Homo sapiens: one gene and its partners. The protein of the gene in region 2 interacts with the protein of the main gene of each other region in a biochemical or structural test. Each region holds a gene or a part of one and is shown on either strand. Other genes may lie near its edges. The genes, in order: HEATR5B, AP1G1, SYNRG and EPS15.

The links.
Region 1: the proteins of AP1G1 (region 2) and HEATR5B form a complex in vitro, tested with the Homo sapiens proteins (one study listed by BioGRID).
Region 3: the proteins of AP1G1 (region 2) and SYNRG form a complex in vitro, tested with the Homo sapiens proteins (2 studies listed by BioGRID).
Region 4: the proteins of AP1G1 (region 2) and EPS15 form a complex in vitro, tested with the Homo sapiens proteins (2 studies listed by BioGRID).

The regions. Positions count from the first base shown.
Region 1 is NC_000002.12:36,979,786-36,984,602, forward strand, and holds the end of HEATR5B (HEAT repeat-containing protein 5B), read right to left. Parts: intron 2,010-4,817; coding exon 1,705-2,009; 3' UTR 1,110-1,704; downstream 1-1,109.
Region 2 is NC_000016.10:71,727,782-71,736,620, forward strand, and holds the end of AP1G1 (AP-1 complex subunit gamma-1), read right to left. Parts: intron 6,927-8,839; coding exon 6,828-6,926; intron 5,379-6,827; coding exon 5,277-5,378; 3' UTR 1,219-5,276; downstream 1-1,218. UniProt on the Homo sapiens protein: Subunit of clathrin-associated adaptor protein complex 1 that plays a role in protein sorting in the late-Golgi/trans-Golgi network (TGN) and/or endosomes.
Region 3 is NC_000017.11:37,535,596-37,544,434, forward strand, and holds part of SYNRG (synergin gamma), read right to left. Parts: intron 6,971-8,839; coding exon 6,377-6,970; intron 4,949-6,376; coding exon 4,785-4,948; intron 3,651-4,784; coding exon 3,597-3,650; intron 2,826-3,596; coding exon 2,729-2,825; intron 533-2,728; coding exon 384-532; intron 1-383. UniProt on the Homo sapiens protein: Plays a role in endocytosis and/or membrane trafficking at the trans-Golgi network (TGN). May act by linking the adapter protein complex AP-1 to other proteins. Component of clathrin-coated vesicles.
Region 4 is NC_000001.11:51,354,420-51,363,258, reverse strand, and holds part of EPS15 (epidermal growth factor receptor substrate 15), read left to right. Parts: intron 1-1,903; coding exon 1,904-2,088; intron 2,089-6,412; coding exon 6,413-6,559; 3' UTR 6,560-8,839. UniProt on the Homo sapiens protein: Involved in cell growth regulation. May be involved in the regulation of mitogenic signals and control of cell proliferation. Involved in the internalization of ligand-inducible receptors of the receptor tyrosine kinase (RTK) type, in particular EGFR.

The DNA of each region.
Region 1 (4,817 bases), on a different chromosome or scaffold from region 2:
TGAAGTTGTTAGCGAAAACAAAAACAAAAACCAAGGAGAATAATTGTGGCAATGCAAACCTGAAATGAAAAAACAACCAGCGCCAAGTGTGGTGGCTCACGCCTGTAATCCCAGCACTTTGGCAGGCTGAGGTGGGAGGATCATTCAAGCCTGGGTGATTGAGGCTGCAGTGAGCCGTGGTCATGTGCCACTGCACTCCAGCCTGGGCAAAAGTGAGACCCTGCTTCAAAACAAAACAAAACAAAACAAAAATGAAAAGAAGCTGGGCATGGTGGCTCACGCCTGTAATCCCAGCACTTTGGGAGACAGAGGCAGGCAGATCACCTGAGGTCAGGAGTTCGAGACCAGCCTGACCAACATGAAGCCCCGTCTCTACTAAAAATACAAATTAGCTGGGTGTGGTGGCGGGTGCCTGTAATGTCAGCTATTCAGGAGGCTGAGGCAGGAGAATTGCTTGAACCCAGGAGGCGGAGGTTGCAGTGAGCCAAGACCGCGCGACTGCACTCTAGCCTGGGCGCGACAGAGAGAGACTCCATCTAAAAAAAAAAGAAAAGAAAAAAGAAAAGAAAAAAACACCCAAAAGTCAGTGAGAAAACAGGCAAGACAAAGTACCTATCTCAGGTATCTAAAAGGCTGAGTGGAGTTCAAGTGTAGTGAGCTATGATTGCACTCCAGTCTGGGCAACAGTGCAAGACTCTGTCTCTAAAAGAAAAAGGAAAAGAAAGGAAAAGAGAAAAGAAGATAAATGTTCAGAAAGTGACTTGCTTTTGATAATACTTGTTCAGTCTGTTACACTGTGCGGTAAAACTTGGTGTTTAAAATTTGCTAAATGCTGTGGCAAACATTCATTGTGTGAATTATCTATTTCGTACGGTAAAATGCCCACTACATGAAAGAATGGCATCACTGTAATTATGCCTAATTCATTTTTGTATCCCCTGCAGCACTTAGCTTGATGCCTTATACACAGTAGGCATTCAATAAATATTTGATGAAGGAAACTAACCATCATAGCCAGAACTTGAGGTTCTGTAATTACAAAACATAACTGAAGCCAAATTTTAGCCATTAAAAAAAGCAGAATATTATATTACATTTAAACATTTTAGTGAACCTTTAAATGAGAATTTTAATTGTTACCAACTAAAATATACATAGCATAATTTAGTAATTTGATATGAAAGCTAAAAGATCCATCAGAAAGATAAGGACATTTTGGGAAATGCTTAGAAAATGCTGTGATTTTATTCATAGTATATACACCACAAAACAGACACTTTCCATTATTTTGATTACTTCAAAATTTAAAATCTGCTTGTTTTTCAATTGATTTTTTTCATGACAGATGCTGAGTTCTGACCCATTTTTTTCCCCTGACAGTATCAATAGGCTGCCCGACTACATGATACAATTGTTTTTAGCATTTAAATTTAAGACTATGGCTCAGTGTTTGAAAAATAAATAAGTTAACAAAAGAGAAACATTATTAGGAGGAAAATGAAAACATATTCACCACATGATAAAAAAAATCACTCCTTAAAAATCAATAAGTGGTGTGAGCATTATTTCACTTAACCTACTTGGAAGCACTATAATACCAATATACAAATAAAACAGAACCCATAGGTAGCCTGGAATGATACAGTGGCCATCACTAATTAGGGGCTAGTTGACAACATAAATACAAATAAATGAAATTACAAATTAAAAAAAACTTGTTTTTAGCTTAATTGTTGGTGCAGAATGTATGGCGGGGGCTGGTTGTCTGGCAGCCGCTTTAGCTTTGCTCGCTTGGCTTGCTCGAACGGCAGTTTCTAGACGCACTTTCAACTCAGGAGCAGCCCCCATTACTGTCTTGAAAGCATGTGGATACAGAGGTCCAATATGCATTAAATTCTGGAGTGCAAACTCATGAAGATCTTTGGAAGCTGAACTTGCTGAGGCAAAAGAATTTTCATCCAGCAGGTAAGATATCAAAGTGGGAACTAAAAGAGCAAGTAGCTGGACTCCTGTAAATAATAAAGTATGAAAAAAGATCACAAACATAAGGATTATAATAAACTTTAAAAACTAGGCAATTGCCATGGAAGACTGAACATAATAAAATATAAGTACACATGCACAGCCTACTTTAGACCTCAATAACTCGTAATTAATATTAAATATTTACTAAATGTACAAGCTGGAAACCAGGTTTGTTAATATTGTATATTTTACATTTATATTAATTTGCTTTACTTAAAAAAAAAAAAGGGCCAAAGGTTAAAAAGTAATAAAACACTTTACAATTGCCACCTGGTAGAATGTATCTTGAGAGTAAGATTATAAAATTTTTACGGGCATTCTAGAATCAGGAGATTGGAGTGAGGAACAGAAACCTGAAAAGCATCTATTTACCATTATTTAACTAACACTAGTTGTTTCTTTCCTCTTTAAGTAGAAATACAATACAACTTTTTTCCTATTTCATCATCCCCCAAAACTCACAGTGAGGGGAAATTCCTCAAAACTAAGGGAATACATAAGCTTAGGGTTAAAAAAACAAGAACCTATGTCCGACTGATATAAATTCCAAGTCCTTAAAAAAGTATTTATTTGGAGGCTTCATCTCCTTTTGTTAGTCTTTTGTCTTTACTTATATTAACAACTCCATCCTGGGATATAAGTTTCATTAAAGGTGATTTTTTTTAACAATTAACCTTTATATGTAATTGTGTGTGTGTATAACATCTCATAATCACATTGAGAATTACGCGTTCTCCCCCTTAATTACTGTTAATTTTTGTAGAATGACAACTGACGCAATTGTAAGGCAGGAGGAAGCATCTGGTAGAGAATGTGTGACACTCACTGATGTCAGCAAGGACAGTGATAATAATCAGTGAAGCCTTTCCAGAATCCCAGTTCCACCCTGGACCTTACTCCCTATTTTCTTTCCCTGCTGTATTTTTTTCTTCACAGCTCCTATCAATTCCTGCATCTAACTATAGATGTTATATCTACATCTAAAATTGATATATCCATCATCACTATATAAAATTGCACAAAGATACATGTCTACATATAACAGACACAGATACACACACACACACACACACACACACACACACACACACACACACACACGTATAGGGGACGAGAAGTGTTTATTGTCTGTGTTTTCCTACCAGAAATGTAAGCTCCATGAGATCAGGGACCTTTGCCTGTTTTATTTCACGAGAAATTCTCAATGCCTAGAACACTACCTGGTACACAGCCATCCAGTAACTATGCTTTGAATGAATAAACATACATACTCTTTCTCTTGGCAACTACCCAGAAGTTTCCAATTAAATGGATTTGTTTCCATATTAAGTTTTCAGAAAAGAGGTAAAAAGCTTATTTTTAAAGTCCCAGGTAAATCCTCCAATCTTCTAGATTTAGTTCAATTTCCCTCATGTACAATGTTAATAGTATTATAGGGGTAGGCGCGGTGGGCTCATGCCTGTAATCCTAGCACTTTGGGAGGCCAAGGTGGGCGGATCCCCTGGTCAGGAGTTTGAGACCAGCCTAACCAACATGGAGAAACCCTATCTCTACTAAAAATACAAAAAAAAAAAAAAAATTAGCCGGGCATGGTGGCGCATGCCTGTAATCCCAGCTACTAGGGAGACTGAGGCAGGAGAATCGCTTGAATCTGGAAGGCGGAGGTTGTGGTGAGCCGAGATCGTGCCATTGCACTCCAGCCTGGGCAACAAGAGCGAAACTCTGTCTCAAAAAACAAAACAAAACAAAACAAAAAAACCCAAAAATATTAGCTGGGTGTGGTGGCACATGCCTGTAATCCCAGCTACTCTGGAGGCTGAGGCAGGAGAATCGCTTGAACCTGGGAGGCAGAGGTCTCAGCGAGCAGAGATCGTGCCATTGCACTCCAGCATGGGCGACAAAGCGAGACTCCCTTTCAAAAAAAAAAGTTAATAGTATTATAAAAGCTGGCTTTCATAATAAAAATAAAGTAGAGAATTATAAAATATATATAAAATTATCTTCAGTATATTGGCTTGCTAAATTGGAAGAGGTTTCAATAGTAGGTTTTCAACAGTAGGTTGAAAATTAAGGTTTTGGTTTTAACAATTTTAAAATATAACTGGAGGCCGGACGCAGTGGCTCATGCCTGTAATCTCAGCACTTTGGGAGGCTGAGGCGGGTGGATCACCTGAGGCCAGGAGTTCGAGACCAGCCTGGCCAACATGGTGAAACCCTATCTCTACTAAAAATATAACAAATTAGCTGGACGTGGTGGCAGGCGCCTGTAATCCCAGCTACTCCTGAGGCTGAGGCAGGAGAATCACTTGAACTCGGGAGGCGGAGGTTGCAGTGAGCCAAGATCAGGCCACTGCACTCCAGCCTGGGCAACAAGAGTGAAACTCTGTCTCAAAAAAAAAAAAAAAATATATATATATATATATATATAAAACTGGAAAAAATATAAGTTATTTAAGTATTCATCAAATATCTAGAAATATGCTAAGCATTATAGGAAATGTTACATAATTTGTTTCTACCTGGATTCTTTTATTATCTAAATGAAAACAGTAGACAGCACATAGAACAATTAGAGTACTAAGTGCTAAAAAACGTGGGTAGCATTTCCGTATAGAATTCACCAAGAGAATCACAAAACTGAGGAATACTTTGGGATTTTATTTGGTTGGTTACAAATACCAAATAAATTCTATGAAGGGTAAAATCGGAGTGAGCTACGCAATTAGGCAATATTTCTCAAAGAAAAGATCTAATGTAGGTTTAATAGATTTGTATAAGAAAAAAATAAGAGA
Region 2 (8,839 bases):
TCAAGGGACTGTCAGGGATCATCAGAATAACAGAAAACCTAAAGCTACCAACCTCCAAAACACAGAGTTGACAGCCAGGCACAGTGACTCACGCCTGTAATCCCAGAACTTTGGGAGGCAGAGGCTAGTGGATCACTTGAGCCCAGGAGTTTGAGACTAGCTTGGGCAACATAGTGAGACCCTGTCTCTACCAAAGGAAAAAAAAAAATACAAAAATTAGCCAGGCATGGTGGTGCATGCCAGTAGTCCCAGCTACTAGAACGGCTGAGGTGGGAGGACTGCCTGAACCAGGGCAGTCAAAGCTGAAGTGATCAGTGACCGCACCACTGCACTCCAGCTGGGTGACACAGCGAGACTCTGTCTTAAAAAAAGACAAGCCAGGTGCGGTGGCTTACGCCTGTAATCCCCGCACTTTGGGAAGTTGAGGCAAGAGGATTGCTTGAGGCCAAGAGTTCAAGACCAGCCTAGGCAACATAGCAAGACCACATCCCTACAAAAGTTAATATATACAAAATACACAGTTCATATAAAATAGACCATGAAATATAACTCATTTTGACTGGTCAAGCCTTCCTCTGCCCAGTCACAGATACACTTGAAAAATTCACAAAAAGCAGCTTATAAAGAAAACCCATAACCACCCTTAATATACATTTCATCTTGGTTTCTCTGCCTTGAGAATTGACCTATGGAGATTAAGCATGAAATTAATCATATTATAGTTAAAATGTCCAATTGCACTTAGGACTTTTTTACTGTCTATAACACAAGTTTGTTGTTGTTGTTGTTTTTGAGATGAAGTTTCACTCTTGTCACCCCAGGCTGGAGTGCAATGGCGTGATCTCGGCTCACTGTAACCTCCGCTTCCTGTGGTCAAGCAATTCTCCTGCCTCAGCCTCCCGAGTAGCTGGGATTACAGGCATGCGCCACCACACGTGGCTGATTTTGTATTTTTAGTAGAGACAGGGATTCTCCATGTTGGTCAGGCTGGTCTCTAACTCCCAACCTCAGGTGATCCGCCCACCTCGGCCTCCCAAAGTGCTGGGATTACAGGCGTGAGCCACCGCGCCTGGCTACAAGTTTTTAAGTGATTCAAATTCCTCTCTTGGTGAGACTTATGTGTGAAAGGAATACTAACAGGTCAGTAAGTTAGCTCAACCTCTGGAATAAGAATTCATCTAAGTCTTCTAATCCAATTGTAAGAAGCAAGGAAGCAAATTTTAAATCATTGGGTATTGACTTTTTATTATTAGTCACTGTTCATAATTTGTTTCAACCAAAAGACAGTACACACAGCAGAATTCTAATGCATCCCATGTAAATGTTTACATCCATTTTATTCCTCACTCGCCTCTAAGACTTATCATTTAACTTTAAATTTTTTTTTTTACATCTCAAAAATATGTCTGCAATAATTAGAGCTTCATTAGCTGTCCCACTTGGAAACAGCTTTTTAATATTTTTACAGTAAAGAAGATGTGATGGGGCATAATGAAAATGTAACTTACAACACTAAGAAAGAAAAGGGCCTTTATAGGAACACAGTGGGAGTTCATAAAGGAAAGAGTTCAGAAGCTCTTTCCCATGGGGCCCCCAAATGGAAAACAAAAACAAAACACACAAAGCGCAACCGCAGGTTCTTTGAGGGAAGAAAAAAAAAAAAAAAAAAACCAACTCCAAGGCTCCATCTTGAAGCCAGAATCAGCCTCTTGGAAGTCTGTAAAGCAACTGTGCAAGCTGCTTCGGCATTTCCTTCTGTTAAAGTGTTCCAGGTCCTGGAACCCTGTCGATGGGACCCACTCACTGATATTGCTTGAAAAAGTTATTCACTTCCAGTTCTACAAGCAGCCCCACTCTCCCGAGCCAAAGCTGGTCAAAAGTGTTTTAAACTTCAGGACTTTCTGTGCAATTCTCTCTCCAATGATCCTACCCACTCCCAAAGTCATGAATACACAGACATGTAAAACCACTCTCCCAACTACAAAGTTCATGAACACCCACTTTTTCCTCTCTAGTTTTCTCAGTTTAGGACACTGTGGTTAAAATACATTCACTAGAAAAAAATAGACACATTCAAACTCCTTTCCCCTAGTTCTCATGGCCCAAATATTTTCCAATGCAGAAGATAATGAAGTTGAACCTTGAAAGCAGTACTCCCTAACTTCCAATTTCTACGACATAAAAAAAATGGGAAGCATGTTATATAAACCATTAGTGTTGGACAGTTTTAAAAGTCTATTTTCATATATGAATGGGACAAACAAGGAGTACAAATCACACCTTTAAACTAGCAAGAGGAAAGAATCCCCTCCCAAATGTTACACTGAGGAATGTTTCTTTAAATGATAAAGACCTTAAAATTAACAGATGATCACTATGCACAGCCTAAAACTTCCGTGACTGTCCAAACCACCTCAAGGTAACAGCACCAAAGCACTGTGGGAGAAGCTTCTCAGGGAGAGCACCCTTCCTACAGTTTTTTGAGATTACTTAGATGAATTAATTCTCCTTTAGGATTCCCCGGGATGGGGCAGAAACTAGAATAGAAACGACTCTTGAAGAGGGAAATAATGAAGTACAAGTGCATGTGAAATTGTCAAAGTAAGTGTGTGAGGGCTCACTGCTTATCACCCCAGGGTTATCAAAACAGCCTTGGAAAATGCTCTTTCCTCACAATGCCTGTGAAGTCGTAAATCCATCCAAATTTGCTCCCCCTTGAGTGGTTATACTCGGGAAAGGAATTATTGAAATGTGCAAGTATTCAAAGAAATTGAAACATTTCTCCATTTAGCTGCAAGGCCAAGTGAGAGGAAAACTAATTCTGATCCTAGAAACTAAGGCACGCTGAAGCTTTCAAAGATCCAATCATTTGAAACAGTCTTCACAACCATCAGTATCCTAGGCAGTTATTTGGCTGCTAGTCCTTCAGTATGGTGCTTGTGTTCTGATTCCAAAATCAATTCATATTCTACGCAGCACCCTTTGTGTTAAGGCCATGATATTTTACTCCTTCTAGACAAAGCTATGAATGATCATAAACTCTACCTCGAAACTATGATCACCCAAGGAAATGCTCTGTCAGCAGAGTAGACCCTTCCCAGCTCCATTAGCTGACAGTGTCTTATAGCATGGTCTTGAACAGATTTCTTCAGAGATTCAACCCAGTTCAAATAAAAAAACCTGAGCTGGTTAGCTACAAATATAAGAGAGAAAATAAAGCCTCTACACAAAGAGGAATGTTAAGACAAATTCTATTCAAGAAATCCACCAACATTATGTTAATCCTATCATGTTTCACAGCATTAAGTATCCATCCAATGAAATCAGTCTGCAAAGAAACCCTTAAAGGCTATTTTTCATTGCACAGGCAGAGCAGTTGTCTGAAATATGCACTAGTCCACACTTACATTACTGAAAACTATGCAGGAGATATTATCCTGTTCTTGACTCAGTCAACCATTTACCCAGTGGAGTAAGTTTTAGCAGATCTTGCTCATACACACTAGTAAGACCAGAAACTTTCCCGTGGAGCCTTTAGTTCAACTCCAGTTTGTCAAATGTTAGGAATATTCCAGCATCTGATACAGAGCTAGATTTGACAAGACACTGAAGATTTTAAGTAAAGGCTTGGTGAAATGAAGGGGAAAAAAAGGGATATTTGTTTCCAGGTTTAAGATTGAAGCCATAGTAGTCATTATACTGTATTCAATACAGTAACAATTGCAAACATTGTAAGAGCAAGGTGGGCCTCACTTTTTCTTTCTTCAGTATATAAGACATGGCGCCTGAATACTTGAACATACATAGTACATTCAATGTGTACCACAGAGAGAGTCACCTCTACTTCATTCCAGCAACTCAATTTCAAAGTTTGATAACATATGGGTCCTTTCTAAAAAGCACTTGGCACTCTCACTAGTTTAAAAAGCTCAAGTCTTTGATGTGAATATTCATGAGATTCGTCTTTTAAAAGAGACCAATTTCTCAGACTGAGGAAAGGCTATTCCTACCCTATGGTGTCCGTAAGACCTCCTCTGACATAGGGGTATGGAAGCTACAAGGCTTCACTCCAACACCATAAAGTACAATATGGAAAGATTTCTTTAACCGTGTGGTCTTTATTTCAGTGCCAGTGTTACAGATACAACACAAATGTTCCAGTTAGAAGGAATTCAAACGGAATGCCAAGGTCCAAGCCAGGCTCAAGAAATAAAAAGGGAGGTTTGGAGTAATAGATAAGATGACTCCAATACTCACTCTTCCTAAGGGCAAAGGTACTTTTGATACAGAGTCTGATCTTTGAAACTGGTGAACTCCTCTTCCACCCATTACCATAGTTCAAACAGGCAAGTTATGGGCTTAGGAGCACTTTAAAATTTGTGGTGGGAATAGGGTCATTAATAACTATGAATATATCTTTTAGAAGGTGACCATTTTGCACTTTAAAGGGAATCAATTTTGAAAATCATGGAGACTATTCATGACTACAGCTAAAGAATGGCGAGAAAGGGGAGCTGGAAGAGCCTTGGAAGTTTCTATTACAAATAGAGCACCATATCCTTCATGCCAAATCTCAACAAAAGCTCTTTTTAACTCCATCTGTCCAGTGTTTACAAATAAACTCGCAAGGTCTGACCAGTTCTTGGTAACAAACATACATGTGTGTGTCTGTGTGTATACAGCAATGCACAGAAAAGGCTACCAGGAGCCTAATGCCTCTTTCAAACATTGGGGGAACCAGTAGAAAAAGGCAGGGCTCCCTAATGTCCATTATTACATTTCCATTCCGAATGCCAGATGTTAAAAGTGCCTGAAGATGGTAACCCAGCTAGTGAGGAATAAATACCCCACCTTGCCCAGTCCACAGAGAAACAACAGTAGAAAGAAGGGGCAACTCTTTGCTGCAGAGACAAAGTGAGTGTTTTTTCGCCATGGATTGCAGTCCTCTCCTCCAGACCAGCTGCTTATTTCCTCAGGGGCCCAGGGAATGTTGATTCTGGCTGTAAATGTGGGAGGGGTGGAGAAGTGCGGAAAAAGGAGAAGAGGAAGAGTGCAAAGTAGCCTCCAGAAGCAGCCAGCCTCAACAGTGGAGGAGAGGACATTAGTCTTTAACAATGCTTCAAGGTCAGCAGTAACTTTAGGAAAATCCTCCTCAGCAGTTCTCTTCAGCTCCTCATGCCCGTGGTACAGTTGGGGGGGACTTGCCAGCAATCACAACCTCCTTCCCAGAGTTCCTTTGATTGAGTGGGATAAAGAATGAGAATGGTGCCAAACCCTCATTGCCAGGACTGAGGGGGAAAGTTGTTCACCTCTGCTAGATCTTGCATTGCTGAGCCCTTGTGATTATATGTAAGCTTGATCCGCATTCGCAGCTGTTGCTATAAGAGGAAAAGAGAAGTGCAAATTATATACTGAAATGAAATCTCCAGAATCTGTCCGGTCCACAAATAGACTTTTAATCTTAGAGGTCAAAACTTAAAGCAAAGCTGTCTGTTAAGAATGACAGGTAAACAACAACAAAAAACACCCAGTACTCTAGGCTTGAGCCAAGAAGCTAACAATGTCATGCCACCAAGTTGAGAAAGCGCATCTGCAGAATACACGGTTAGCTTTAATCCTTGAACTGCATTAAAAGGACAGAACTCCTTGGGAGCATTTTTTCTTTTCTTTTCTTTTGAAACAGGGTTTTGTTCTTATTGCCCAGGCTGGAGTGCAGTGGCACAATCTTGGCTCACCGCCACACCAGACTAATATTTTTATTTTTAGTAGAGACGGGGTTTCACCATGTTGGCCAGGCTGGTCTTCAACTCCTGACCTCAGATAATACACCCACCTCAGCCTCCTAAAATGCTGGCATTACAGGCGTGAGCCACCATGGAGCATTCTCCTAGTAACATTTTGCTGAGTCCTTTTCAAAAAGATTCAAACCTTGTATCCAAGTCTCTTAAAAAATGAGGTGAACATATACTCATCGTACGCTCTCCATTCAGATACACTGTTGCTTTATCTGAAAAACCTACAGTAAATGTGAACATGACCTTTTGTTCCTAAAGCATAAAATTTTAAAAAATGACTTAACTCACAGGTAACAGCAGTAGTTTTAAGAGAACTCAATTAGACACTTTTTGTATGGCAGATTTCAAATACAAATGCACTAAGACATTTTTTACTCTCTGTATCAGATGGTCAAAGGAGTTTGTGCTTGTACTATAGAGGCCGATGCTCAAAATATAGTGAATAGCAGAGGAAAGGCAAGTGTTACAAGAGAAAGAAAGTATACTGTTACTTATGAGCAACTAGTAGAGCTCTATTAAAGAAATTCTCTGAACCATTTTCAAAAACTGAAAACCAACTGATTACTATTAAGGTGAGCTTATTTCTTTGAGAAGAGATAATAAAAATATTGCTTAATTTCAGTTTCTAAAGCTATTTTTCATTTGGCTGCTTCATTTAAAATGCCTCTATTTTTCTATTCATACTTAATAACTGTAGCAGTAAATGTAGGTATTTGGTTTCAACAAATGCTCTTACCTCAGATTTCAACTTGTGTATAAATTAAAATGTCTAAGCTTCTCCCCTACCCCCAAAAACCAGACCTTTAATCTAGCTTTTTTTGAAGTTGCATTTTAATAAGATGCCACTAAGCCACCTGATGTCTCTGGGTTCCATTTGTTATTTACAAAAGAGCAAGGAAGTTAGACCAGGCATTTTCATTGATCTCTTCTCTAACTATGAGTCAGAAAAACCTAAAGAAACAAAGCAGAATTTTATTTCGGGAAATATGCTTACACTTCGGCTCAGATATTGGCTACAAATGTGCTACTCACCTTCTGAGGGTTCAGAACTTTAATGACTTGTGTGATGGTCCCCGTGTTAAATGCTGGGACAATGCTGCTGCTAGGAGACAAGAGCTGCAGCTGGAATGTCTAGGGGGGAACAAAGGGCACTCTTCAGAAAAAGAATTACACAACGCTAGGTCAGAGATACCAAAAACCATTTAGACACCCAGATGATGGGTCAAGCAACAGATTTCACTACTACTAAGTTTTGCCTACTACTTGTTTTCTAGATATCAGGAATTCACAGCACGTGAGTTGACTCCCTGTGGTATTTGTAAAAATCCACTGTTCGGTTCTTTGATCATGACAACTAGTAATAAACCACATTCTCCTTTCTGGCAGAAGGAATTCTAGCCTACCTCTTTTCAAAAGCTGACCAATTCTTCTTCTGGCAACTTCACTTAATGGTAACTGATCAACTATGCAAGTAAAATATCGGTGCTTTTGGCTTAAAAAACAGCCAGAAAGAAATGAAAAGAAAAGCTTCCCAAAAATAGCAAACCAACATACTGGTCACCAACTATAAGCTTTTAGGCTTTTGTGTGATTGGATAACTGGGATGCAGAGACTTGAACTTTTGTTTTTTAAAGCCTGCATAATCTATAATGTGTCAGAGCCTCCTCTCCACATGACAGAAGGAACGGAAAGACTTGCAGAACCAGCCTATACAGCAAAAGACCTAGATAAGCCAAACAGTATTAATTTGTTGAATGCTGGTGGGGTTTATTTGCTTGCTTATAGAAATAAGAGTTGAAAGTGCTGGCTGGGTGTGGTGGCTCAAGCCTGTAATCCCAGCACTTTGGGAGGTCAAGGCGAGCGGATCACGAGGTCAGGAGTTCGAGACCAGCCTGGCCAACACAGTGAAACCCCGTCTCTACTAAAAATACAAAAATTAGCTGGGCATGGTGGCACATGCCTGTAGTCCCAGCTACTCGGGAGGCTGAGGCAGGAGAATCGCTTGAACCCAGGAGGTTGTGGTGAGCCGAGACTGTGCCACTGCACTCCAGCCTGGGCAACAGAGCAAGACTCCGTCTCAAAAAAAAAAAAAAAGTGCTATATAGGGCAAGCTAGGTAAACCATACTGTACTACGTAGCTATTGTATGAACTAGCATTTGAAAATCTTTCCTAAAAGTAGATTAAACTTCTAAAATATTTGAGAGAGAGAGACACTAGTCTTCTCTAGGGCCAAAAGTTGCAAGAGTGAAGATTCACTCTCAATGTACAGATATATTACACTGGGGGCTGGGCACGGTATTCCCAGCACTTTGGGAGGCCAAGGCGGGCAGATCACCTGAGGTCAGGAGATCTAGATTAGTCTGGTCAACATGGCAAAACCCCATCTCTACTAAAAATACAAAAATTAGCTGGGTATGGTGGCGCATGCCTGTAATCCCAGCTACTCAGGAGGCTGAGGCAAGAGATTTGCTTGAACCCAGGAGGCAGAGGTTGCCTGGGTGACAGAGTGAGACTCCATCTCAAAAAAAAAAAAAAAAAAAATATATATATATATATATATATATATATATGGTCTTATTCATAATTCTGCCACATTAAAATTATGTAAGCTAAAGTATTATTCATTACTACCATATTTCATTAAATGTAAGATACCAATCGTAATTCACACCATTATTTTATGTACCACTGAGATAGAAAACATGCTGCCCACTGAATTATGACAAGATACCAATTTTTAAATGTATCCTAATTTTAGAAACATTAAAACACGAAATTAGTACATAGTAGAACCTATAAAATATGACTTTTTTTTTTTTTTTAGATGGAGTCTCGCTCTGTCGCCCAGGCTGGAGTGCAGTGGTGCGATCTCGGCTCACTGCAAGCTCCATCTCCCAGGTTCATGCCATTCTCCTGCCTCAGCCTCCTGAGTAGCTGGGACTACAGGCGCCCGCCACCACGCCCGGCTAATTTATTATTTATTTATTTATTTATTTATTTATTTATTTATTTATTTATTTATTTTTTGAGACGAGTCTCGCTC
Region 3 (8,839 bases), on a different chromosome or scaffold from region 2:
AACTACAGGATGGCAACATGAGGTATCATATAGCTTTTTGAAAGGACACGTATGGGGACATAAATAACTAGAAGTGCAAAGGGAGTATCTCAAACCACTGCTTTGCAAAACTTCCGTGTATTATGTGAATTAAGAAAGGTGTAGCCAGAGTGAATGTTTTCCTGTACTGGTTTTTTCCTTAGGTTCACTGGGCCTTAGAGAGATCAGAAGCCCACCTGGTACTGTTCAACTGACCACACACCTGTGATCTCCCTCCTTTAATATAACATGCTCCAGTTGGCACCTCCAGCCTCTAATAAGTACCATCATAGGAATATACACTCTGCTTTACAACTTAGGTTTCTGGAAAGGAAAGCAACTGCTGAGTTGTCTCATGGGCTTACTGTGAGTGTGGCGAGTGACATGAAGCCGATTAGGTTATTCCATACTTTATCGATGTCCTTCAGCAACTGCTGGAGTTTCTCACTGCACACTGCAGTGGCTTTTATCCCCAGCTCCACACGCTTGGTTACCCTGTACACTTCAACAACACCTGACGGGATGAGAGAGCAGAGAGAGAGTGTTGGCAGTGGAGACACAGAGGACCCAGACAGGGGAGCATTATTGCTTGCTGATATCTGTGAGAAACAATGGGTGTATCTGGACAGAGGTGTACTTACTATTCTTTGGGACCAATCCACTTCTCAATGCTGCTGTATAGCTTACTGGTAAGAGCATAGAAGCTGCACTGCTTGGGTTCAAACCCCAGCTATGCCTCTTACTGGCTACATGACCTTAGGCAAGTCACATAATCTCTCTGTACCTCAGTTTCCTCATCTGTGAAGTTGGGATGGTAACAGTAGCTCCTCCAAGGATGGTTGAGAGGATTAAATAGGGTAATATGGTAAAAGGCTTACAACAGTGCTTGGAGAATGGCAGGCACTATGCAAGTTATTAGCTTTTGTTTTTTGGGAGGTTTATTTATGAGTCCATCTGTTTGAATCTGGGAAATCCCAATAAACTAGCTGAAAATGGGGATAGTAAAAATTTAAAAGAATCTAAATGTTAATAGCATCACAAAGTAATGAAGAAACATCTCACCCCTCTGAATCTGAAGGTCTTACAAACACTTTGACTTCACTTATCTTTAAACACATAACAGGATGCAGAACAGTTCTTTTCCTATGGTCTCTAAATTGTGGTTGAACTCTTGAAGCAAGGATGAGAGGTGCTAAGTACCTCCACATTCTAAGGACAGCCACCAGACACATCCCTAACCCCTGCAATGTAACAGTCACCAAAGACATGACCCCGATCTCTCTAAGTGAACACTGGAGGAATTCCAGGGGATCTTCAGAGCGGGGCCTCAGCAGCCCTGTGTCAGCACTACGGCTTTTCTTCTTCCTTTCCCAAGAGAGGGGCAGAAATTACTGCCCACCCTAAGCCAAGTGAGGGGGCTTCTAAGAGAATCTTCCATAGATACAAGGATACTAGGAGAAAAGACAGGTGCCCCATTTCCTGGTGGACATCTGCTTATGCAGAACTGTGCCTGTTTGAGCAGGAAAAGAAGACCCCAAGTGAGGTGGCAGGAGTAAGGCAGAGACTACATCCCTTCACTCTCCACTCATCCAGCAAATATTTTTGAGTGCCAACTACGTGCAAGACACTAGATTAGGTGTTGGGGACACACCAGTGAACAAAACAGACCAAAATCCTTGCCTTCTTGGAGGTTCATTCTAGTGAAGGGAGACAGAGAGTAAAAACAACAAGTAGCTAGGTGCAGTGGCTCACGCCTGTGATCCCAGCACTTCGGGAGGCCAAGGTGGGTGGGTCGCTTGAGCTCAGGAGTTCGAGACCAGCCTGGGCAACATGGCGGAAACCTGTCTCTACAAAAACTACAAAAATTAGCTGGGTGCATGGTGGTGCACACCTGTGGTTCCAGCTACTTGGGAGGCTGAGGTGGGATGATTGCTTGCGCCTGGGAGGTGGACGCTGCAGTGAGTCATGACTACATCACTACACTCCAACCTGGGTGACAGAGTGTGAACCTGTCTTAAAAAAGAAAAGAAAAGAAAAGAATAATAAGTAACATATGTAAGAAATTAAAGGTAATAGGGCTAAGGAGAAAATCCAGCAGAGAATGGGATGGGAAGTACCGGGGTAGGGAGAGACGATACTCTTTGGAGAGATGGATGCTAGGAAAGATTTCACTCAGAAGCTGACATTTGAGTAAAGATTTGAAAAAGATTAGGGTCCAGCATGTGTGGCTCTGGCCACGGGCCAAGCCTGAGCTTGGGGAAGGGAGGAACACCGAAGTGGACAGAGACTACACTTTCCCGTTGGACTGACACATCAAATTGCTGCAGATGGCCAGGAGGTTAAGGACTCTGTGGTGTCATTAAGCGGTCGAGAGAAAGAATATAGAGTATGGTAAGGAATTGATGGGAGACAAGATGATTTTACTTTAGTGCATCGGTAGTTCAGATTCTTTGATAAACCAGTAACACAGATATAATTTTACATTTTTGCTATTACGTATATAACAAGGATGAGGAAACTTAGCCATAGAGACTTTTTAATTAAGTCCAATAGTTTACTGCCTGTAGCTTGAGTGTCTTACCCACAAATACAGATGCTTCTTACTGAAGTCATATGTAACTTGAGAGATCTAGCTTAAAATAATTAAAGGGAAAACTGAAAATAATGCAAAGGGCCATCATTTTCAATAGTAAAATATGAAAGAACATACCTAATAAATATTCCATGCCTTGAGCTGACTGAATTACTTCTGTGCAAACAGAACTACTACTGATTCCATTTAAGGTATCATTTGCCTTCTTAATGACCTACAAGAAATGAAATCACATCACCTTACATAACTGAGAAAAGTCATTGCAAATCAATTTACTATTAGTAGAAAACCCAACCGAAAAGCCAGGAGGTGTCAAAAAATCTCATTTTATCCTTGAAGAAACAATCCTCCATTTCTCTGGAAGAGAAAATATGTTTTTTTCCTTTTGTTTTGTTTTGCTTTGTTTTGAGACGGAGTCTCGCTCTGTAGCACAGGTTGGAGTGCAGTGGCAAGATCTCGGCTCACTGAACCCCTGACTCCCGGGTTCAAGTGATTCTCCTGCCTCAGTTTCCTGAGTAGCTGAGATTACAGGCACGTGCCACCACGCCTGGCTAATTTTTGCATTTTTAGTAGAGACAGGGTTTCACCATGTTGGTCAGGCTGGTCTCAAACTCCTGACCTCGTGATCCGCCCGCCTTGGCCTCCCAAAGTGCTGGGATTATAGGTGTTGAGCCACCGCACCCAGCCAAGACAGGTTCTTTAGCTTAAATATTATTTTGATTTAGTCAGAGTTAATGAAATCACTTTGTTATTTCTTAAACACAATGACAGATGAGGGGATGACTGACACATGAGCCGGTCTGCTATTGTAAGTGTGAAAGAAGCCTCACCTTAGATGCATGACTTCCACAGAGTTACTCTTTGCCCAGGGACATCCAAGTAAGGCTCTCCTGAAGTTTGCCTCTGTCAATTCAAATGAACCAAGAAGGCAAAAAGGCACAAAAGAGCACTCACATATGTGTGAACGCGTAAGTGACATACTCACATTCAGGGCACTCCCCAGGCATCTCTGCCATTCATATGCATATCTCTCATTTTCCTGTGAATTTGTTAAAAAGAACTGGGTTAAACACACAAACCTGGAATCTTCTATTGATGACTCTGTCAATTCAAAGTGCTTGGAGGACTTTCCTTTTTATTACGATCACTCTAGTTCAAGCAGTTTATGTTTTTTTTGTTTTTGTTTTTGTTTTGAGATAGGGTCTTGCTCTGTTGCCCAGGCTGAAGTGCAGTGGCATGATTTCTGCTCACTGCACTGGACGCAAGCAATCCTCCCACCTCAGCCTCCAGAGCAGCTGGGACTACAGGCACGCACCACCACATGAGGCTAATTTTTGTATTTTTGGTAGAGGTGGGGTTTCACCATGTTGCTCAGGCTTGTCTTGAACTCCTGAGCTCGAGTGATCTGCCCGACTTGGCCTTCCAAAGTGCTGAGATTACAGGCATGAGCCACCATGCCCAGCCGCAGTTTATCTTTTTGAACTCACTAATAACTATGTTAAATTACTAATAAATGTAACTTCTGAGCACAGGACCTGTGAGTCTAAGGGACATGCTTTCCAGCAGCTTCCCCCTGTGAGTGTTGCCTCATTTGTTCCATCAGTAACAGTGTAAGCCTTTCTTCGGAGGCACTCAGCATGTAGCTATCTGGTACAGAAACTGCTATTAAGCCACTGGCTTTCCACGCCCCAGTTATAACGCTGTGTGGCTGTGTGTGAGGACGTGGCCCATGTGCACATGTAACAAGGAGTAGGGAAAGGTGGGAAATTAAGTGTGTTGACCATAGGAGGAACATAGCGTGGCACTAAGATGCAGCAGACAGAAATAAAAAATTCAGAATATTTTCCCTGTCTCCTCTATTTTGAGGTTTCATGAAGACAATAAAGTCTAAGTGCTCAAGAAGAATTATACAAACACTGCCATCCTTGTGAAGTCCCATGAATAGTTTTGGTTTTAGGGTCACTGATTAGTTTCAGTGGGTGCCACACCTGGGAAATGTTTTCACCCAGGGCTAATGTTACCCTTGCCTCACTTTAATTACATAGTTTATGTCTGGTGCTTTGTGTCTTTCTGCCCCTCATTTTCCCCATGTGAAAGCTGACAGCATTCTTTCTTGGGGCCCTGTGTGCTTGCTGGTCTGTTACCCACCCCTTGTAGAAAGCTCTCCTCTCACCTCCACCTCTCCCGTCAGGTCTTTGTACTTGTCTCGGATGACGGGCAGGGCGGGCTTCTCATTCAGAGTATTGGAACGGTCTCTGAAAGGCTGCTCCAAAGCTGGAGAAGGAGAAGAACGGCTTATTTCTTTATCACCAAGGCTCAAACTCCTCTTGTGTGATCCTGGGAGAAGGGGATAATACAGTCAAAGGTTTTGGCTACTCACCTTAGTTCAGGCAGAGGCTCTTCCTCGCTACCACAACCCTCTTCTTTTTTTTTTTTTTTTTTTTTTGAGACAGATTCTTGCTCTGTCGCTCAGACTGGAGTACGGTGGTGTGATCTCGGCTCAGTGCAACCTCCGCCTCCTGGGTTCAAGCAATTCTCCTGCCTCAGCCTCCTGAGTAGCTGGGACTACAGGTGCACACCATCATGCCTGGCTAATTTTTGTATTTTTAGTAGATACACGGTTTCATTGTGTTGGCCAGGCTGGTCTCGAACTCCTGATCTCAAGTTATCTGCCTGCCTCCCCTCCCAAAGCGTTGAGATTACAGGTGTGAGCCACCGCGCCCAGCCCACGACCCTCTTCTTCAGATGCTTATGTCATGAGGCATTCACAAACACATTCCTCATTCATTCTTTCTGGGAAGCTACATGTTAAATCTTTTCTACTGTTCTCTCTTGCACGGTTTCCCTGCGTTTCGTTTTCAACATGACTCTTCTCTGATCTATCACAAGTCTTCCATAATGCCCAGTGCAGAATCACTGGAGTCTGGAGAACAAAAGCACCTTTCTAAATATCAGTATGTAAGAGTTGTGTGGCTTTTCCAGTCATTTGTTATGGATTTGTAACCGAGTTCCTTCACAGTCTCTCAATCCAGTTGAAATCAACGACCCCTCCTGTCAGGATGAGATTAAAGCAGAAGAGGCAAACTCAAATGCCTTCAGAGACCAGGCAAGTAAAGTGAACAACTTAAGTAGGTCCGCTGAGACAGGAAGCGGTGGGGATTATGGTAGGAGAGAGAGAATGACCCACCTACAGGGAGTGGTGCTCTTCGGCTCCAGCTGCCAACATATGGGACTGTAGACCTACTAGTGCCAGATATTATGACTTCTCAAGAAAAGTTGGAAATCCAGATTGGGAAATCTCATGTCTTTTAAATACTGGCAATTACTTCGTACTTAAAAATCTTTTGTGTGGGTCAATGTGATATGCAGGCTAGATGCAGATCCCCGGCCCCCACTTTGCAACCTTTGGATTAAAAGACATTATCTGTGCTCAGGGAACATGAGCGGAGCTAATGTGCCTACAAGTGGCTCGAATCCATTTATCTGGCTCTTTTAACACAGCACACCTCTAACCAAACGAGCTAATGAGCAATACCTGCATGCTGTGCTTGTTTTTAGCCCATAAAGCAGTTATCTGAGGGATGCTGATTTTGACTCCCGTCTCAGGGAAATCTTTATTATAGCTATCTGTAATTGACCCTGATTTCAAAGATTAGAACAATCTATTTCCTGCGAAACCAGAGAGCAACATTTTATTCTTAAGAACATCTAACATCTCAGTGGAAAAAAACCACAATAGTAAAATCTACCTTGGAAGCTACTCACCTTGAACAGAAAGGTCAAAGGTTGCCAGCTCACTTTTGATCATTTCTTCACTGGATTTCATTTTGCTTTGTGAAGTGGCTACTAAGAAGTCAAATTTGCTGATTTTGGGCTTTTCACTTTGAAACTCTCCAAAGTCATCCGAACATTCGTTCGGGGTTTCTTGAGAGGCACCACTGGACGCTGGGCTGGGACACGTGGCCTCCTGGCTCCGTTCAGCCGTAGGCAGGTCCTGTTTTGTGAAATCTTTATAGTCTCTGTTTTCATATTCCTTTTGCTCACTGGTCTGAGGAATCGTGTCTTTAAAACTGGCAAGAGCTGGGAAGGTGGTCTCTGGAAGAGCATCTTCACTTACAAAGGTCGTTACTTTGGAGAGAGATGTCATGGTGATGTTTTCAGAACTGCCAAATGAAGTCTCTTTCTTTTGAAGAATTGAGGTGGCTGAGGGGGATCCACTTCCTGCTGAGAGGACAAATGGAGAGAGTTTTCTGCCCTGAGTTGCATCATCCCTGTCTGACCAGTCATAGCTTGTAAGTGTGCTCACTGCAAAATTGCTACTGTAGCTTCCAAAAGCAGCATATTTTAAGTCCTCTATATCTGAAAGGGAAATAAGACCCCACAATTAGAGGCAAGCAATTTAGGCAAAATGCCCTAAACTCTGTAGAAGCAAAATGCCTAGCATATTTGATTAGTTTTATACTATGTTGAAATTAGCTAAATTTAGAGTTTGTACTAAAATTAAGAGTTGGGCTGTAAAATCTGATCTTAAAAAAACCCACATTAGCCTTGAGTTGGCATTTACATTTAGTTACCAAGAACCATTTTCTTTGGCTATAAAAATTACTAAAAAAAGATAGGAGGTTCATCTACCAAAGTATACACTGTTTGATATAAGATTAGGGTCATTTAATAAATTGTTCCCTTATCAACTTAAAAATGTACTGATATTCCTTGCCTAAAACATGTCTCCCTTCATCTTGACTTTGTTGGAAAATGTGCCTTTAAAACATGGTCATGTGAAATGCACATGGCAAAATAATTAAAAGTTGACAGTTTCTCAAAACTAAAATGAAAATAATGTCATCTAACTTTTAATCAATTATTAGGGTTTCTGTCATAATATTATCAATTATTAGAATTTCTGTCTCAGGCAATGCCAAACATGAGATTTTAATCAAGCAATTACTTACCTAGTTGTTATTTTGGTCAAATTGGACGTCATATTGCTGTGATGAAGTATGAGGAAAGAAAATCAATCTGATCTACTTTAGCCCTTAAAAAAATACAATAAAAAGATCTGGGTCCTGTTGGGCTCCACTTTTTCCTTCAACTATGTATCTACTCCCCATTTTTTAAAAAAAAAGGAAAGAAGAAAAAGAAAGAACTGCTGGGGCAGACGACTGATTTTACAAAGCATTCTTAATATATAGTTAAGTAATTTAAGAGGTAGCATAAAACAGCATAAAGAATGTAGGTTTTTGATTTGGAAAGACCTGAGTTCAACCTTGCTACCTACTATTTGTATGACACTAGGCTAATGATTGAACATTTCTGAACCTCAGTTTGCTTATCAGTAAAATGAGGAGAGGAGAAGACCATGTACTTGGAAGGACTGTGTTATGACCATCAACCATGATCATGTGTGTAAAAGGCCAGGTTGGTGCCTGGTGAGCAATACATAATAGCTAGTGTCTGCTCAGCATAGGTGCCACCAGCCTCAACTTGACAGTTAATTGCTGCTTTAGGGCCTACAGTGGAATTTCAAAGCAAAAATGAAAAGTCAACTCAGCATTTTAGTGGTGTTACTAGGAGAAAATTTTCTTGCTCATTTTCAGAAAGCAAAACCAGCCGAGACTGAATTTGGCTGGTGTGGAGAAGTGGGTTGATATGCATTTCGTTTCATTGTAGTCACTGTACATGAGGCAAGAAGGCCAAATATGAGACTCTCCCTCTGACAACCACATATGTGATTTACAAGGAAAGTGCTCAAAAGTTTTATGACCTAGATTTTCAGAACTAAGTCAATAAGTGAACCAACTTGGAGTCATTCTTCTCTTTCATTCACAGCAATACTGCATAATTTATGAGGGGTAAGAAGCTCCTGACATTTCCATAGCTCTTCTAATGGTATAATCCAAATCTCTCTTTCTTTGAGCTGTTAGGAAAGGGGTGCTAAGTGAATAATAAAAACAAAAAACACTAGTTGTACAAAAAACCAACCAGCAAAAAGCAAACAGCTTTCACAGAATGATGGCATATTTAAAAATTCTGTGGTGCAATGGTACCCTTCAAATGTGGTTTATAAAACAGAAGGAAAAAACGACTCAGGTGAAAAGTTTTTTTTTTTTTTTAATTGATTTTTTGAGATGGAGTTTCACTCTTGTCACCCAGCCTGGAGTGCAATGGCGCGATCTCGGCTCACTACAACCTCCGCCTCCTGGGTTCAAGCGATTCTCCGGTCTCAGC
Region 4 (8,839 bases), on a different chromosome or scaffold from region 2:
TGGCATGATCTCAGCTCACTGTAACCTCAGCCTCCCGGATTCAAGGGATTCTCCTGCCTCAGCCTCCCGAGTAGTTGGGATTATAGGCATGATCCACCATGCCTGGCTAATTTTTGTATTTTTAGCAGAGATGGGGTTTCACCATGTTGGCCACGCTGGTCTCTACCTCCTGACCTCAAGTGATCTGTCCACCTCGGCCTCCCAAAGTGCTGGGATTACAGGTGTGAGCCACTGCACCTGGCCAAGACTCTTTTCTAATAGTGATTTGTTTCTTATTTTTGTTTGTTTCTATGTATAATTAGTATGTGTGTGTATGTATATGTTTAGCACTATACAAAGGAAAGTTTGTTTTGTTTTTAGGTCATAATAAGTGGCTAAAAGGATAATTCCTTGAGTAGTTGTAGTGCTGTTGGGGTATTATGTGAGAAGACACATCTTAGTATATTTTTTTTTAAATCATACCTCATTCCTTGGGAAATTTTCAGTCTCAGTAGTTACAGATTAATATTGCCTTTTCATCATAACCTTTCCATGGTCTTGAGCAGATAGGTTTTTTTTCTTTGACTGAAAGAATTGCATGTACAATTGTAAATATCCGATAATCTGTTGAAAAATCAGGTAAATGAGTTAAGTGATTCCTTCTAAGGAAAGGTAGCTTATGTCATATATTTCTAGAAGTGAGGTTATCAGAATATATTTAAAAATAAATAATGGTTAATTTGCACATTTAAGTTTTTACAACTTGCATGATGCCAATAGTGAGGTTGTTTTTTTAAATCTTAAGTAAAATAATATGCTAGTGTTTTTGCTCAATCTAAGAATCTTCATCCAAGTAATTGTATATCATTGTAAAAAGATTAAGGAAAAGACTGGTTTGTTGGAAAGAGCACTAAACTGGGAGTCTAAATATCTGGGTTCTGTTTCTGGATGTTCCCTGACTAACTATGATCTTAAGTGTATAATTTCATATATCTGACCCTTGGCTATTAAATGTTGGCAGTAATTCTAATTTTGCCTACTTTCACAGGATTATTGGAAGAATCCATTGAGATATGAGCATCTTTTCTAAGCAGCTACAGTGATGGAATCTGTTGTTATGATTGCTATTACCAGCTTATGCATTTTAGGAAAAAAATATATTTGGAGATATTTTGACCCCTATTTTTATTATCTTTTCTTCAAGAAGTACTAAGTTTAAGTAAGACTTAGAGAACTTGTTTGAAAATGGTAATGAATTAGTGAGTGACTAATAGGACAGAATACTATTGTTTGGTCAGAGATTATTTGATCAGCAACCGCAAAGATTTAGGCCCTGGGCTTCAAAACATTTTTTCTTCATTTTGAAATACAGTAAATAACAAAAAATTGGCAGCATTTTACTACGGTAATTTAAAAATTTTATGCTCTTAGGTATTGTATGTAGAACTAGAGAAAAATCAGAAGAATTTTCCCAGTTTTCAGAGGTCATTTGCTCTTACTGCCACTAGTGGATAACTGTTATCAGGCTGAGGGCTGTAACAGCAGAGGCAGGCCATTTCTGTCTTTATTCTTTATTATTCTCCTTCTGTTTAATCCATTCGTCTCTCCTTTTGGGAACATGCTGCTTGGGTGTGGCTAGGGGATGGTGGGATTCAGTCTTTGGACAAAAATATGATTCCTGGCCCATCCTTACTTTGCTATTTGTTTCATTAGCTGCACATAGCTGGAATCTATTTGAGAGATCATGTGTGAAGAATTTGAGGACAAATTGTTGGTGTAGCTATTTAAGACAATATTCAGAATGTGTTTTAGGTACTCAATCATCCTCTACCCACAGTACTTTAATGCTATCTGTGTACATGTTCTTGTGTGCTTGTATTTGCTGTATTTACTGGTTGAATTAATTGTAATGATTTTGATCCAGGGAAAAGATCCATCAACAAATTGGATTCTCCTGATCCCTTTAAACTGAATGATCCATTTCAGCCTTTCCCAGGCAACGATAGCCCCAAAGAAAAAGATCCTGAAATATTTTGTGATCCATTCACTTCTGCTACTACCACTACCAATAAAGAGGCTGATCCAAGCAATTTTGCCAACTTCAGTGCTGTAAGTACTGTGAATGAGCTGTTTGGGGGAGAAATCTTTAAAGAGTTTTCAGAGATTATTTTGGAGTCTGCCAAGTTTGCATCATTTTAACTAAATTTACCAAGATACTAAAAATGATCTTTCATTCTTCCCCCAAGCAAAACCTCTGTTTGATCCTGTTTTGACAGTTCTACGGTTGTTCCATCGCACAGATGATTTTAGTAGTCCCAGTTCTTGTCATATACACAAGTTGTTTTGTAAATCTTTCTCTTAGTCTTGGTAATGTAAGTAAAATCCTAACAGTTATTATTTTGTGGATGGTTATGGGTGATGGTGATTTAATGAACAATTACAGAGTCATTGCTCTCTGCCCACTAGATGAATAATGCCAGTAATAAGTTTGTGTATTTGCAGCTGTGTATGTGTGTTTGTGTATAAAGTTTTAATGATTTCTGGAGACCAGTCAGCAAATATTATATGAGAGGATAGAGCCAGAGATTCTTTGAATAGAAAGTAAAACTATTAAACTTACACAGTAGCTTTTTAAAAATGTAAATGCCAGTTTTATGAAATAAATAAATAAATGGTTGTCAGGATTTAAACAATCTTTATTTGGAGGGCCCTAATTCACTAACTTCTCATGTTTACTCTGCGTTCTTTCAGAGATGTCTAAAATAGGAAGATCGTTAGAAACAGTGGAAGGGTGCCATGATAACAGCATAAGCAGGGCCTATAAAATCACAGAAATGGGGCAACCAACCATGGAGGTATCAGTCTAGAGAGACATAAAGCAATGTCATATATTCCATCATTATTCAGTAAAAAAAGTTATTTTTTAATAAAATTCTTAGACCGGGTAACAAATTTTCAGTTTCACAGTTTTTTCAGGCAAAATAACCTTCGTTATCATTGCCTGTTCTATAAAACAGAGATTTTCTTCTATTTATCACCTTATGCCCTTGAGATGATTTTGGAAATAGATCTAGTGGCCAGGTAACTCTGCCTAATATTTCCCTCCTCAGTGTAGCATTGGGCCATTCAACCAATTGCTTTATTCCTGCAGCTGTTTCTAGTTAGAAGGGAGGTAGTCAAGAATCTGCATGCAGGCCGGGCGTGGTGGCTCACGCCTGTAATCTCAGCATTTTAAGAGGCCAAAGTGCTTTAAGCACCTGTAGTCCCAGCTACTTGGGGGGCTGAGGTGGTGGAGGTTGCAGTGAGCTGTGATCATGCCACTGTACTTCAGCCTGGGTGACAGAGCCAGACCCTGTCTCCAAAAAAAAAAAGAATCTGCATGCAACTAAGACGACTGAGCTCCCAGCTTTTGAATCTGTACTCTAAGTTCTGGTGGCTTCTCTTGACTATGAAGGAGCAAAATAGGAATCAATATTTTGAATATTGTAAAAATGGAGTGCCAGAATTATACTGATTTTTTTTTTTTTTTGAGATGAGTTTTGCTCTTATTGCCCAGGCTGGAGGCGCGATCTTGGCTCACCACAACCTTCACCTCCCAGGTTCAAGCAATTCTCCTGCCTCAGCCTCCCGAGTAGCTGGGATTGCAGGCATACCCACCACACCTGGCTAATTTTGTATTTTTAGTAGAGACGGGGTTTCTCCATGTTGGTCAGGCTGGTCTTGTACTCCTGATCTCAGGCGATCCACCGGCCTCAGCCTCTCAAAGTGTTGGGATTACAGGTGTGAGCCATCGCGCCCAGCCTTACTTAACTTTCCTTTTTTTTTTTTTTTTTTTTAAAGACAGAGTCTTGCTCTGTCGCCAGGCTGGAGTGCAGTGGCGTAATCTCAGCTCACTGCAACCTCCACCTCCCAGGTTCAAGCAATTCTCCTGCCTCAGCCTCCCAAGTAGCTGGGACTACAGGCACGCACCACCACACCTAGCCAATTTTTGTGTTTTTAGTAGAGACGGGGTTTCACCATGTTGGCCGGGATGGTCTCGATCCCTTGATCTTGCAATGTGCATGCCTTGGCCTCCCAAAGTGATGGGATTACAGGGGTGAGCCACCGCATCCAGCCCGACTTAACTTTCATTAGATGGAATTTGATTTGTTTCAAGCAGAGAATCAAAAATTGGCCTTTTTAGAAGGTTATAATTCTCTTAGTGTAAAATAACCCTCTGGTAGTTTGTGGCATTTAATATCTTAAGTATGGTTTTAGCAAGTCAAACTCTTGTTGGGGCCAGACGGGGTGGCTCACACCTGTAATCCCAGCACTTTGGAAGGCCGAAGCGGGCGGATCACTTGAGGTCAGGAGTGTGAGACCAGCCTGGCCAACATGGTGAAACCCCGTCTCTACTAAAAATACAAAAATTAGCCAGGCATGGTGGCGCATGCCTGTAATCCCAGCTAGGGAGGCTGAGGTGGGAGGATCACTTAAGCCCCAGAGGCAGAGGTTGCGGGAGCTGATATAGTGCCACTGTCCTCAAGCTGAGTTACAGAGCGAGACTCCGCCTCAAAAAAAAAAAAAAAAACAAAAAAAAACAAATCTGGTTGGAAGGAGTCTTGAACAACAGCTGAGGCATTTTGCTCCAAAATCTCAATATAGTATAATAAAAAACAGCTTATAATAAGAACATCTTCTTTTTTCATTGTGAAAGATGTGGTTAAGCATTACACGTTTCAAAGTTTTGCTTAATTCCCTAGGGAAAAAAACTACCATTTCAAAAGCCTGACAGTGTATTTTATTTCATCCTTTCATGAAGGATTTTCTATGTAACAAGACTTGAAACCAATTAGAATTTTTAATTTAGTATTTGCCAAGGTTGCTGTTTGGGGTAGATAAAAATATTTCCCCAACATAATAATTATGAGTGTTAAGATTTTATTTAGACTGGTCTAAAAGTTCCCAAAGCCTGGAGAAATCTTCATAATGCTTTTTGTTTTATTTTTATTTTTTTTGGCTCACTCCGTCGATCTGGCTGGAGAGCGGTGGTATGATCACAGCTCACTGCAGCCTCAACTTCCCAGGCTCAGGTGATCCTCCCAGGTAGCTGGAACTACAGATGTGCACCACCACACCTGGCTAATTTTTTTTGTAAAAACAGAGTTTTGCCATGTTGCCAAGATGAACTTCTTGAACTTCTGAGCTCAAGCAATTGGCCCACACCCACAGAACTAGGATTACAGATGTCAGCCACCATGCCTGGCTCAAAATGCTTTTTATAAAATATGATTAGGTTCTTGGGAGGCCGAGATGGGCGGATCACCTGAGGTCAGGAGTTCGAGATCAGCCTAACCAACATGAAGAAACCCTATCTCTACTAAAAATACAGGATTAGCCGGGCGTGGTGGTGCATGCTTGTAATTCCAGCTACTCGGGAGGCTGAGGCAAGAGAATCGCTTGAACCCGGGAGGCGGAGGTTGTGGTGAGCCAAGATTGCTCCATAGCACCCAGCCTGGGCAACAAGAGCGAAAACTCTGTCTCAAAAAAAAAAAAAAAAGATTAGGTTTAAATCACATCTTGCTTAGTATACCCAATACTTTAATATGATGTATAGCAAAATCAGCTTTTTTTTTTTTTTCTTGCTTCTTAGCTTTTTTACACATTAAGGGTTAGGAAACTACCAGTGGGATTAAATTAAAAATGATTTGTTGTGTGAGGGTCTCAGTAAAGTTGAAGTGGTAAATATTTTACATTACATTAGGTCAAAAAGGCTAGCCCTGTCCTGTTTTTAAATCTTCTAATCTACTATAAGCATTTCTACTTTTTTTAGTGAGATATATATATATATATATCACATTTAAAAAAAAAAAATATATATATATATATATATATATATATATATATATTTTTTTTTTTTTTTTCAGATGGAATCTCACTTTGTCACCCAGGCTGGAGTGCAGGGGTGCATTTTCGGCTCACTGCAACCTCTGCCTCCTGGGTTCAAGTGATTCATGTGCCTCACCCTCCCAAGTAGCTGGGATTACAGGCACCACCACCATGCCCAGCTAATTTTTGTATTTTTAGTTGAGAGCGAGTTTTGCCATGTTGGCCAAGCTGGTCTCGAACTCCTGACCTCAGGTGATCCACCTGCCTCAGCCTCCAAAGTGCTGGGATTACAGGCATGAGCCACCACATCTAGCCTAGTGGCATTTTTAACATTTAGTTTTATAGACTTTCTATCTATAGATTGAATTAATTTTTTAAATTAAACTATAGCTTAATAACTGGTTAATATTAAACATGTTTTCAGGGGGAAAAAAAAAAGAATTAACAAGTAACCAGACTATTTCCAGAGTCCTTCAGGTGTCCTTTTGTAAAAACTATTTTTCCTTCTTTTTACTTGCTTTACTCATTTATTTATTCGTTTGTTCATCGATCTTTTAAATGGCAGTATCCCTCTGAAGAAGATATGATCGAATGGGCCAAGAGGGAAAGTGAGAGAGAGGAAGAGCAGAGGCTTGCCCGACTAAATCAGCAGGAACAAGAAGACTTAGAACTGGCTATTGCACTCAGCAAATCTGAGATATCAGAAGCATGAAGAATTCTCTTGTTCTTTGGCAACAATATAGTATTCTTCTTCCTGAATACTGAAACTATTTACAATGTGTATCAAAACTACCTGTGAGCATGGGAATACAAAAGGTTTGAGATTCCTGTAAATGTGACAAAATTTTAGGATTTTTTTTTTTTCTTCATTACAGATTCGTCTTTTTTTTTTTTTCTTATAAAAGCCGTAACCCAGTCAGACAAATTCACCTTCACTTAGGCCCCTGTTCTGGTATACATTTACTGTGAGCTTTTGCCTGCCTGTGCTATTTTACTTGTAAAGCTAGAGCACCCAAGCTTCTGCCTTCTGGAATATAGAGAAATAGTTTCACCCTGCACTACCCTGTTCTGTAGTTATTCTGATGATAGCCAGTGAGGTTCTTAAAGTTTGCAGTATTCTCCCCTGATTGGAATGGTTGAGTGAGGGTAAGGGAAAGAATATCTTATTTCTTTTATGATTGGTGCAAATTGGCTAAAGTGCATTTTTAAATTTCCTCTACTTAATTTGTTTTTCAGAGATAAGGAAAAATATTTTGCACAGATTTACTCCACTATGGAAAAGGGATGCTGTAGGTTGAACCATTATAGCCTCAGATTCGATCTTTTCCTAACTAAAAATATTAAAGCCTCATGTGTGAAATAAATTTTTAAAAAGATTTATCTGGATTTAGAGAATTTTAGATCAACAGATACCTCTCAGTGTGTTTGCTAATTAATAAAAATCAGTTTCTTACAAATAAAGTTTGTAAGAAAATGTTCATTTTAAGTGATAGATAGTGGAGAAAATTTATCACCTAAAATATACCCATCAGTATAAGGCAAGCAAAAGTCTTAACATGGCAGCCATTCTGCCTTTGCCGTGGCCCTGTCCTGTTTAGTTCTTAGTGGGTTAATTTTTGTACTTTTGCAGAAGAAACTTCAGCAAGCTAGAACTGGAAGGTACTTTAATTTTTCATATATATTTGTTTTTTTTTTTTTAATGAAGGCTCATTTACTTGAAATGTAAAAACTTTCACTGAATACAAATAGAAAAAGTGATGTGTTTTATATCATATTGCTTTTTGTCCATCTTTGTGGTTTAGTTTATTTACTCACTTCATGTTTTTCACCTATAAAATTGTCAAGCTAGCAAAAAAACTCTTGTTTTTTTAATTGGGAGAGAAGAGACCTGCCAGATTATCAGACCTCTTCATGTTAAAAGACCATCTCCTGTAAAACTGACCTAGTGGACAAGCTGAATTTGAAATAGACTGTGAAGTAAGCTGTAACTTGTCATTTTAATTTTGTTTAACACGGTTACTGACTTAGATGATGTATTAAATACCAAGATAAAGAAAAATGCACCTAAAATCTAATTAGAATTCTCTGGGTCAACAAGTCAAGGTGGTATTGATCTGTGTTAATCTGAGTAACTTATTGCCTAGCCTATAAATAAATTCCAAAATATCCAATTCATTTCTTCTTGAAATGGTGCTTGTTTTGTTTTCTTTCCATTACACAATTAGACTCCTACAGTTTAAAACAAACTTTAAACCACTATCTTGCACTGCTAACTTTTTTCTACCTTTGTAAATAGAAACATTTCTGCATAAAAGTCATACATATGAAGCAAGGGCTGAATCATAATCACAAGGCTTAATTTTGATAAACGAATCCAGTGACCTAAGGATTTTCTGCAAAATTTGACTGGGAGTTGTGATAGGTGGTATTTTTGTTTATTTTCTTCCTCTTACTCCTTAGGATAAAGGTAAGTTGACTTGAACAACTTTCTTTTGCACTGGGAAAATAAGCAAATGTTTAAATGCTTCAAAAAAATTTTCAATTAAACTCAAATATTAAATATCTATAACTTATAAACACCAACTTTCAATGTAATAAATGTATCCTAATCTTATGTATGTTTAACTGGATTACATAGATTTTTATCTTTTGTTAAAATGTGTATACCCCGTGGACCAACATAATATTAAAGTATGTATATATTATATAAATATATATGTATATGTGCTCGCTTGTGTAGGATGAATGTCTTAGAGTCGTTTGTGGTATTTTATGTTGTTGACTCTGGCTCCAGGGCCTGTGCTTGAAAAGGACAGATAAGTATTGCCCAGAGCTAAGTGGCACTACTTACAAAGTTTTAAATGTCTTCTACATACTGATTCATGTTTATTTGAGCTCTCTTTATAGAATTTTCTCTTAAAGTTTCAAACCTCTAAGTTGTAGCCTGTAATTATGAGAACAGTAAACTTTAAGTAATAATAAAGAATCCCAT